2 separate regions of the Homo sapiens genome follow, and region 1 is linked to region 2. Evidence: fine-mapped expression QTL. A gene starts in region 2. The other region holds a variant in brackets. All regions are shown on one strand. Distances are between the middles of the regions.

Region 1 (5,395 bases), 300 kb after region 2:
AAGTCAATGGGAAAAAAATACTTGAAATTCAGGTCTTTGGTGGATTGGGGGAGAGGAGGAAAAATTGTGTGAGAGAAAGAAAAATTGTTCCATTGACCAAACTTTGGCATGAAATTATACTTTTAAACCCATAAGAAAATTCACAAAGCTGATATTCTTAAAACTTTATCTATTTAGCTTCAAATTAGAATTTTTAAAACATCTTATTAGGTAGCTCTTTTGTAGTATTCCTATGAGAAGAATTAATCCTGTAAAATATGTCAAACTCTAGGAGTTAGCAAGGGATAGAAGAATATGCTGAATTGCAGGTGAGTTAGAACTTTGATCAATAAATTATGTGAAGCAGAAATTTTATTGTGAAAAGTTGTAATAATACAAAAACCCACAATATTTTATTTAAAAATTAGGGCATGCAGAGTGTAAATAATTTGCTTTGTTGTGGAATTCAGTGTGTGCTGAATCAATAGGGTGATTACTCCAAAGTTGACTATTGAATACATGTAAATAACAGTTACTAACATTTGTATTATTAAGAAGTTTACATTATCATTGTATAACCATCATCATATTTTATCGTACAGACTTTTCATAATATTCAGGTGAGATACAGTAATCGTTATCTACTCATTTTGAGAAAGTTGGAACTGAGGAGCAGAAAAGTTTAAATAACTTGGCTACGGACACCTAAGTTCTCCAATCAGAACTTGGTCTCAAGTCACCTGGACTTCAAATCTTCCCTCCACTCCTTCTTGGTTAGTCTTTTAGCATGATCTTGCACTGTGAACTCTGAAGACAGAAAACAGTTAACTCAGAGTGAATGTGAATATCTACCTCTGGGGTCAGTTTAACTGCTAGTGTGGTATTTTTTCGTTTTGCTCTTGTTCCCTGCACTGTAATTTTTGTGTCCTGCTTCTCTCTCATCCCCTTTCTCTCTTACGCATTTCCTTTTCCTTTGGCTTTTTGTGATAATGTTATATACTTGCTAGAGTGAACAGATTTATTTCCATCATTGCAGTGTGATAATTAAAATATTTTAAACAAGAAATTAACCTCACCATTGCCTGCACTTTTTAAAAGTATTTTTTTCTGATTAAAGCAGGAAATTCAGGCACAAAAGGAGAGGATACTCATGCTTGTCATCTTCACATTTCAGGTATTTGGGTGTTATTGCTCCAAGGGGTGTTCCTGCTGAAAGACACAGAATGTATATGTCACCTCTATCCATCAGGTCAAAAGATCTTGCCAACAACAATATTCACATTAATGCCCAGTTGGTCTCCCTGTTTACAAGAGGCGTTCTTGTGAAAGGCCCTACTTTTTAGATTAAATATTTCCTGTGCCAAAACATTCTGCATCAGTGAGTTAAAACAGACTATAGTCCAAAAGGATATATCCTGGCTGTGAGCACAGATTTGGTATAATTTGAGTTTTTTCTTGTTTTATTTTTAAAACAAAATATATCGGGCTTATGATTATTAGAGAAACTCAGATTTAAGGCTCAGGAAAATGTAAATGACAGCTAAAGATAATTCCAAAATCTTCTCTGTTTTCTCCAATACCTTGACTAATAGATTGTCTCATAAAACTTTATTTTTCTTTTCTTTTAGTCTCCAAAGGTCTATTTTTCTGCAGAAAGCTAATGAATCCTGACAGAGTTTCTGAAAAGCTAAACATATATTTTTTGTGCAAATTAGAAAATTTGGCACAAAGCCATACATTTCCAGTTTCACAGGGTAGAGCTGTGCATTAAAACCAGCAGGCTCGGTGTGGTGGCAGGCTCACACCTGTAATCCCAGCACTTTGGGAGGCCGAGGTGGGCAGATCCCTTGAGCCCAGGAGTTTGAGACCAGCCTGGGCAACATGGTGAAACCCCATCTCTAGAGAAGACACAAAAAATTTGCCGGGTGTGGTGGCATGTGCCTGTAGATCCAGCTACTCTAGAGGCTGAGGTGGGAGGATTACTCGAGCCCAGGAGGAGGAGGTTGCAATGAGATGGCACCACTGCACTAGGCCTGGGCAACAAAGCAAACAAACATCTCAACAAGCAAACTAACAAAAAACTCAAACCACCAGCTCCCTTTTTACAAAACGATGTGTGTGTGTGTGTGTGTGTGTCTGTGTGTGTGTAAACTCCTTGTTTAGTAGTTGTGATGAAGTAGAGAGGGAATTGCAAACATCTGACAAATAGGTTTCATTGAGGTACATCTTTGTATATATTATCTCATCTAAATCTCAAAACAACCTATTTAGTTTGGAATTTTTGTTTCTATTATACTGACAAAGAAGATAAGGCACAGAGAGGTAAAACAATTTGTCTAAAGAAACATACTCAGTAAATGATTTAATCCCATCTTAGTTGACTGAAAAACCAAAAACTCTCCATCCTAACTTCCTGCTTTCCTGGGAAACACTTTATAAGCCCAGGAGGCAGTTATTCTTTTTACTCCTCACAAGAACGATGTAGAACAAATGAATTTTGACTCTTAAACTATAGCATATATGTAGCATTTAAAAATTCATTTCTTGAGC[T/A]TCAAAGCAATCACAAGGCTAAAAATTTATAGTGGCAGCTGACATTTCCTTGTAACGGACATGATAATAAATATTTTTAGGGCCATATAAGTTTGTATTACATACTCTTGCTTGCTTTTGTTTATTTGTTTTTATTTCACAACCCTTTATTAAAATAAAAAAATTCTTAGCTGAGTGACCATACAAAAACAGCCCTTAGACAATATTTGGCCCACAGTCATAGTTTGATGACCCTTGCTCTGTATCTTGATTTTGATGGTGTTTATATGACTACAGAAGTTTGTCAAATTCCAAAATTTTACACTTAAAATTGTAAATTTCAAGGAACATAAATTACCTTTTAATGAAATAAATGGGGGACCATCATAAACAGTATGTTCTTTCACCACAAACATAGAAATTTTAAGTAGCCTTACATCTATTGATTAAATAGAATTTGTAATTAAATAAATTCCCATAAAAATATTCATATCCAAAGTAGCTCATCAGAAATTTTATCAAACATTTAATAAACTAAAATTGCCAATATCACACAAACTCTTTCATGGAATAGTGGAATGAAGATACTTTCCAAGTCATTTCATGAGGCCAATATAACTCTGACACCAAATCTAGGAAAGGATATTATATGCAAAGAAAATTAAAGACTAATATTCATTGTGAGCATAGACACAAAAGCCCATAACCAAACATTGTCAAATTGGATTTGGCAATATCTAGAGATGTTAAATAATCCTGACCATGTGGCAGTGGCAATCCCAGGAATGGCAAGTTGGTTTATTATATGGAAATCACAGTGGAACTCACACATTAACACATTAAAGAAGAAAAATTATATTTAATTAAGTAGATTCTGGAAAAGCACTTAAAAATTCAGCACCTGTTCATAATAAAAACGCTCCACAAACTGGGGACAAAAGAGAACTTTTTTCTTCTAGGCAAATAAAGTCTGTGAGAAATCAACATTAAATATATTTTACTCATGAAGAAGGAATGAGCATTATATCCCAAAATAAGGAAAAGATAAAGATGTGCATTTCTACCACTTCTAGTCAACATTGTACTGGAGCTCTTAATGTAGTAAGTAAAAAAAAAAAAAAAAAGGCATACATTTAGAAAAGAATAAATAATAAAATCTCTATTTGAAGATAATATAACATATGCCTAGAAAGTTATAAGGAGGGAGCTCATGTCTTTGTGGGACTCCATGTATATGTGCATAATTAAAATTGTTTTCTATTGTTTTTTGTAAAAAAAAAGTCATAAAGAATAAAAAAGTGAACTTTGCAATGTCACAGGATGCAAAGAAAATATACAAAGATAAATTGTATTTCTAACCAACAACAATAAGCAATTGGAAAGAAAATAAAAGAGATGCTATATTTATGGATTATAAGGCTCAGTATTGTTAAAGTTATTAAAATGTAAATTCGCCACAAATCTATCTTTATATTCAACACAATCCTAACCAAAATTATATTTGGCTTTAAAAAAAGGCAATTTGCTGTGTTCAAATATATATCAAAATGAAAATGTCTTAGAACAGTTGGAGGACTTACCCTACCTGACTGCCATACATACTATACAGCTATGGAAATCAAGAGTATGACACTAGCAATATGATAGATGAATAGATCAATTGAAAACAATTGTGGATCCTGATATAGACTCACACATACAAAGTCAAATTATTTTTTGTCATGGGCTCTAAAACAATTCAACAGAAAAAGGGAAACAACTTTAGCAAATGGTGATGAATCAAGTAGATAGGAATAAAGAAAATATAGAACCTCAACCTCAATTTGACTCATACACTAAAAAAAACATCTCATATACATGAGGTATATGATATCTAAACCTAAAGGAAAGTTTAAAATATTCGAGAAAAAAATCTTCATGGGCTTAGAGTGGTAATAATATATTAGCCTTGAACAGAAAGCCCAAATAATAAAAAAAAAGCACTTTATCAAAAGCAAAATACTTTGTTCTTCAAAAAATCACCAGTAAGACTGTTTTAAAAAGCAAGTCATAGATTATGAGAAAATATTTGATATACTTATACCTGACAGAGGATGTGTAACCAGCATATAAAAAGAACTCTTAAAACTCAATAATATAAACACAGGCATCCCAACATAAAAAATAAAAATTGAGATTCTATATCTTGAGAAAATATCCTTCAGAAATGAAGGAGAAATCAACACATTCCTAGATGAAGGAAACATAAGAAAATATGTTGCCAGGAGATTTACCCTACAGGAATGGCTAAATAAAATTTCTAAAAGTATAGGAAATAACAAAAGAATAAAGCTTGTGACATCAGGAAGAAAGACCAATACAGTAAACAAAAAATATGGGTAAATACAATAGGCTCTTCTCTTGAGTGTTCTAAATTATGCTTGATGGTTGAAGCAAAAATTAAAACACCAATGTTGTTCTAAATATTTGTAGAAGAAATATCTAAGACAATTATAAATGGGGGAGAATAAAGAGATGTAAAGGGAAGTAATCTTTCTATACTTCACTAGGACTGGTAAAATGAGAACACGAGTAGACTGTGGTAAGTTACAGATATGTAACAACATAATAACTAGTGCAACCACTAAGACAGCTATACAAAGAGACACAGTCAAAACACTATAGATAAAGAAAAGGGAAATTGTAAAAAATGTTTTATATGATGATTTATATGTTTTATATGTGTTGTGGGTTTCCACAGAAAGGGAGGAAAAAGAAGACATAAATGAAAAGCAGAGAGAACAAACAGAAAACAAAAATAAAATAGCTGATTTAACTCTAAGGTATCAGTAATTATATTAAATTTAAATGGTATAAACATAGCAATCAAAAGACAGAGATTAACAGA
Region 2 (5,395 bases):
TACATAACTGGCGTCCTCCCAAGTGTGAAAACGCTGTAACCAATAAATTAAACAATAAAATGCTATCTGAGCAGAACAGATTTATATAGAAGATGCACGAGAAATCAAAATTCACTGACTTGTTTGGAGTATTTTTACCCAGAAAAGTTCTTAAACACAGAGCAAAACGCCTGCTCTTTGAGTCTTGCCTTCTTTTGGACACTTAGGTCAGTCACTTTCCCTAGAGGGGAGTTGTTGCACAGTGACTTCGAAGTGAATAGGTTTCAATCTCAAAATCATCTCTCTGTGTTAAGGGTTCATTAGGTCTGTGCTTGTATGTTAGATTTTTAGGACCATCTCATTTGTCTAGTACCGCTTCTTACATGCTTAGTTAATGACTACTAAGTGAAGCTTAATTTAGCAGGAAGGTTATTTACATTAGAGCTTCCTTGAAATACACACACAAGGAAGACTTTGCAAACTTCTGCAAAGCCAAAGGAGTGGGGAGACAGGGGCATCCAGACTACCAAAATATCTTCCTAGGTAGTATTATTAAAAAAAAAATCCCATTAATAATAGTAATACAATAATCTGAGCATTGTCGACAATTTTGAGCTTCATGAAATGTATTTTTAAATGTACCCACTTTCAATTGAAATTTCTTGTGAATGACAAACTTGGAATAAGAAAATGAGGGAGACTGGACTCTTGCAACCTTTTGGACATACCTTTGCCAAATGTAAATTGTTTGACGGTATGGATTTACTGCATTTTTCATGCTACCATTTGTAGTAAAACTAAATGGAAAAAATCTTTCCTCTTTAACAAAACCTCGTGATAACAATACCTTAAAATACACTTCATAGCTGCTGGTCAACCATGTTAAAGGCACAATCTGATCTCTGCTGCTACTTTCCTGAGGAAAAGAGCCAATCAGCTGAGCAACTTCCTCATTTGTTGTGCTTTATGAAAATGAAAATGCAACAGACCTTGGGATTTCAAAGCCATCCATGGTTACAAGTGAGGAAATAAATATATAACAGTGGGGACTTTTACTTTATCATTAAATTATAATGCCCTTTGTTTTTCTGTTGGCTAATTCAGACAGCAAAATGGCTCTCTCTTGATTTGCAAGAGTTAATTTCTTACCATACTTTCTGCATCACACCATAAAGATAACTTCAAGTAATTTTGGTTAGATTGTGTTTTATTCATTTGTTTGTTTTGGAGTTCTAGGATCTGACAGGAAAGCAGTGTGAAACAGGCAAAGTTCAGAGTTACTCTCAGAACGACTCAAGCAGGATCCATTTCCTAGTTCCCCCCAGCTGCGGATTTTAAAGTCTGGATCTAGCTCCTGCTCTTGTTTCTCTAAATATTTATCAGTTAACAATTACACATCTGCTCCAATGGCAACAAACTTGGCTGAAGAAATAATGCTTTTCTTCCTCCCACCAAAATATGCAAAATAATGCAAGTCCATCTGAAGATTTTCGAATCCAATTATCAGACTTAAGTCCCCCTATTTTAACACTCATTTTATTAAACATATTGGAAAGTTATGTTATTTCAGTATGCTCTCTTTCTCCTTGTTTGCTTTCTATTGTTCCTACTCGTTTGGTTCTTTCCAGTAAGCTTCTCTAGTGAGTATTTTGCTCTCTTATCATACATGCCGGCTATAGTGAAGTTAATAGAAGTGCTTAGTAAAGTCCTCTGAATCCTGGTATAAGAATCCTTTCACACAGAAGAGAATTCCTTTCGCTTGGAAATATTTTAAGAAATAAATTTATGAAAGATTGTCTGATATGATTTAGATCATATTTGATCAGGACACTAAACTGAGACCTGCATTTTGCATGCCTTTTATTTTTATATTTGCAAAGGGCTCTTTACACAAGTTTACTTAAATTGACCTTTAATGCTTTACATAAATGCAGTTTTTGCAAACCCGAGTCAAAGCAGAAAATAGAAGTTTTACTCACCTTAGTATATTGAATCTTCAAATCGGTGAGTAGGACAGGTAAGTCTGGCGTGCCTGAGGATGACATTTCTGATTCGGCTCCTGGAACACAGGTGACTGGCTCAGCAATTTGGTTCTGATAGAGCACTTGGCTTTATTTGTTCCTTTTTTATCTGCACGGGCTAAAGTTTATTTGCATACTCGGATACGATTGGATGAACAAACTCAGAGCAAAAAAAGAAAACGACACTACTTATTTGTAACACCTAGGGCAGGAAGCCTTTGACTTTAAACTTAAATCCTTAAGAAACCAGTGCTCCAGCATCGAATTTGTACCTGGAGACAGTGCACTATTTGCAGATGAATTAATTTACAAAGCCGAAACCTGTGATAAGTGTATGCAGCAGCTGCTCTGGCCACTAAGGCCAGTTATTATTTTTTTGACTTCTCATGCTTTTTAATGCTACTATGTAACTTTCTGTTCTCTGACAGACTTGGAATCAGAGAATTTGAGGATTGAAAAGAGTCTAAAAGGGCACTTGTTCTCAGTAGAAGCTGGCCAGGTGTCTTCAGGACAAGGCTTTCAGGAAATCAGTCCATCTCCCAGAAAATCAAGGTGCTGTTTGGGGAAGAAAGGCCCTTTATCTACACCCTACCCTAAGTTAGTTTTAAAATATCGTATCAGTCTTGTGTATTTTCAGTGCTGGGTAAGTAGACCTACTGTGATCTCAGAAGCCCTAAATTATCTTTATTTTCTATATGTGAACAGAAAAGCCAGCAGGACTTTTAGGGAATTCGGAACACACTGTCACACACAATCACCACAATTAGAAATATGGCAATATCATCTATTAATACTCATTTAAAATGAAAGTAATCCTGGTTTTGGAAGTTGTCTGTATTTATCAACATAGGCAGTGTACAAAGACTAAATTTAAGCAGGGCTTCCAAACAATTCAAGTTCTTAAATTAATATTTAGCTGAAGGACAATTTTTTAAACAGTGTTACTCCCATTTTAAGTACAATACTTTATTGTATTGTAGCTCTAGCAAACGTTACAATAGGAACAAGATAAAATACTCTGGATGCTCTGATTGTGGAGAATCAACCAATTTTTTTTTTTCTAGTGAAACTTGCCAATTCCCCTGAATATGGGACTTACATAGGGAAACTAAAAATTTCTGAATTGTTTGCCCAAATCAGGTGCAGCACTTGTTTCCCTTTCTACCCTCATTTCATATCCCCATTTTAGAGACATACAGAGGGTGAGTAGCTTACTTATGGTCACAGATCTATTAGTGCAGGACCAGAATTTCATTTCAGGCCAGTCTGACTCCCAAACCTGGACTCTTATTTCTGTTTACTATTTCTACCCTATTCTCCACAAGAGAACTCCTACATGGGTTCAAGCATCAACTGCTTTGGTTTTCTCAGTGAATAGTCACCCTTACAGGCATTTAAACATAACTTTTTATTCATCTAAGACAAGAATTTGCAAAACTTTTTCTGTAAATATTTTCAGCCTCTGGGCTGGATGGTTTCTGATATAATTTACTTGACTCTATTTAAAAGAAACTGTAGATGATAGGTAAATTAATGGGTGTAGTTGTTTTCCTATAGAACTTTATTTAAAAAGACAGAAGGCAGGCCAGATTTGGTGCACGGGCCAACTCCCTAGATTCTAAGGCAATATCATTCCCAATGCCTTTGACTCCCCCGTGTCTTATGTTTGATGACCAGATAGAAACTTCTGTGTTCTTTCAACATTTCTCTGTTTCTTTCTTTTTGGAAAGTCTAATTGTTTTCTCTCTCAAAAATGTGTTTTGAGTTAAATGCACAATTACACAACAGCTGTTACATAACTTGAGAGTGGCGCTCTGGCCATGCCCAAACAGCTGTGTTTTGCTGCTTTCTTCTCCCAGAGTCACAGTTGTTTGTGGATTCAAATACTGGTTTATTTGATGTCCAGGCGATGAAAGCTCAAGGCTTCATAACATACTTGGCTTGTCATCTCACTTCTTATATGATCATTCTCAATTGTATTTTATTGGATAATTATGTAAGAACAGTCCCTTTATACCAGGCATTCCTGAATGTAGGCAAAAGGAGTTGCTTTGGAGACAGGTTACCACACCTGCCCATTTAATTTCAGCAAATATTTACTAAGTATCATTTATGCATCCATAATTCTTTAGCCCTAACCTCACTTAAGCAGATCTTTTCTGCCTAGAAACCACAGGGCCTGAGACCTATATTTTTGAGGTAAACATCATCCTGCCCTGAGAGCTTATTTTGTAGAATAGCATATTTCTGGGAATTGCTGCATATGAGGAAAAGATTTCATCAGACTACTTCTATTCCTTACAGAGGAAATAATGGCTTTTGTGAGAACCTAGGGACCAAGGTTGCACATTTTAGAACTGGACCCAGGATTGTACGTTTTTATGGTATGCCAGGACTATGCAGCAGAGGAGGAGCTGTCCCTTTAACTTGAGAGTAATCGACAAATGATGTTTCATCTTCTTTTTCCTCCTTATGAACAAACTAAATCACACACACACACACACACAGGCACACACACATATGGAGAGAGAAGCAAGAAACATAAGAGGATAGTTTATTCATCTCTTGAATTTGACTTCTCCAGCCATTTGTGAAAGCTTTCATTATACCAAGAAACATATAGATTATGACTTCAACCATTCTTGAAACTACTCTTTCATTTTACAACAAACATCTCCAGAACTCCGTCCAATCCTCAGTTCCTGAAAAGATAAAAGGAACCTAATCTGCCACCCAGGACTTAAAATTTTTAAAAAAATGTTGAAAAAAGTCATATGATGAATTAAAAATAGCTTCTGCAATGGACTGAATTTTTTTTGTCCAGTCACAATGGATATGTTGAAATCCTAACCCCCCATGTGATGGTATTAGGAGATGGAGCCTTTGGGAGGTGTATTAGTCCATTCCCATGCTACTAATAAAGACATACTTGAGACTGGGTAATTTATAAAGGAAAGAGGTTTAATTGACTCACAGTTCAGCATGGCTGGGGAGGCCTTAGGAAACTTACAATCACAGTGGAAGGGGAAGCAAACACGTCCTTCTTCACATGGTGGCAGCAAGGAGAAGTGCTCAGCAAAAGGGGGAAAACCCCCTTATAAAACCATCAGATCTCATGAGAATTCACTTATTATCATGAGAACAGGATGACGGTAACCCCCCTCCATGATTAAAGTACATCCCACCGGATCCCTCCCATGACATGTGGGGATTATGGGAACTACAATTCAAGGTGAGATTTGGGTGGGAACACAGAGCCAAATCATATTAGGAGGTAATGAGGTTATGAGGGTAGGACCCTCATGAATGGATCAGTGCTTTTATAAAAGGGACTCCAGAGAGATCTCTCGCTGTTTCTGCCATGTGTGGATGCAATGAGACATTGGCAATCTGTA

The links. PIP is the estimated chance that this variant, and not a neighbour inherited with it, causes the effect. A credible set is the group of variants that fine-mapping cannot tell apart.
Region 1: its variant is the best candidate, but not a certain one, in a credible set for the expression of ALDH1A1 in whole blood (TOPMed, PIP 0.61).

The regions. Positions count from the first base shown.
Region 1 is chr9:73,246,622-73,252,016 of GRCh38, forward strand. LOC105376082 (a long non-coding RNA gene) reads right to left here. Exons shown (of 5, transcript XR_929931.2): 2 at 1,056-1,188. Among named protein-coding and RNA genes, the nearest start is that of ANXA1, 97 kb to the left of the region's middle. The variant T/A (reference allele first, on the strand shown) is at 2,530.
Region 2 is chr9:72,950,977-72,956,371 of GRCh38, forward strand. It overlaps ALDH1A1 (aldehyde dehydrogenase 1 family member A1), which reads right to left and starts at 2,077. Exons shown (of 13, transcript NM_000689.5): 1 at 1,959-2,077. The coding sequence starts at 2,024.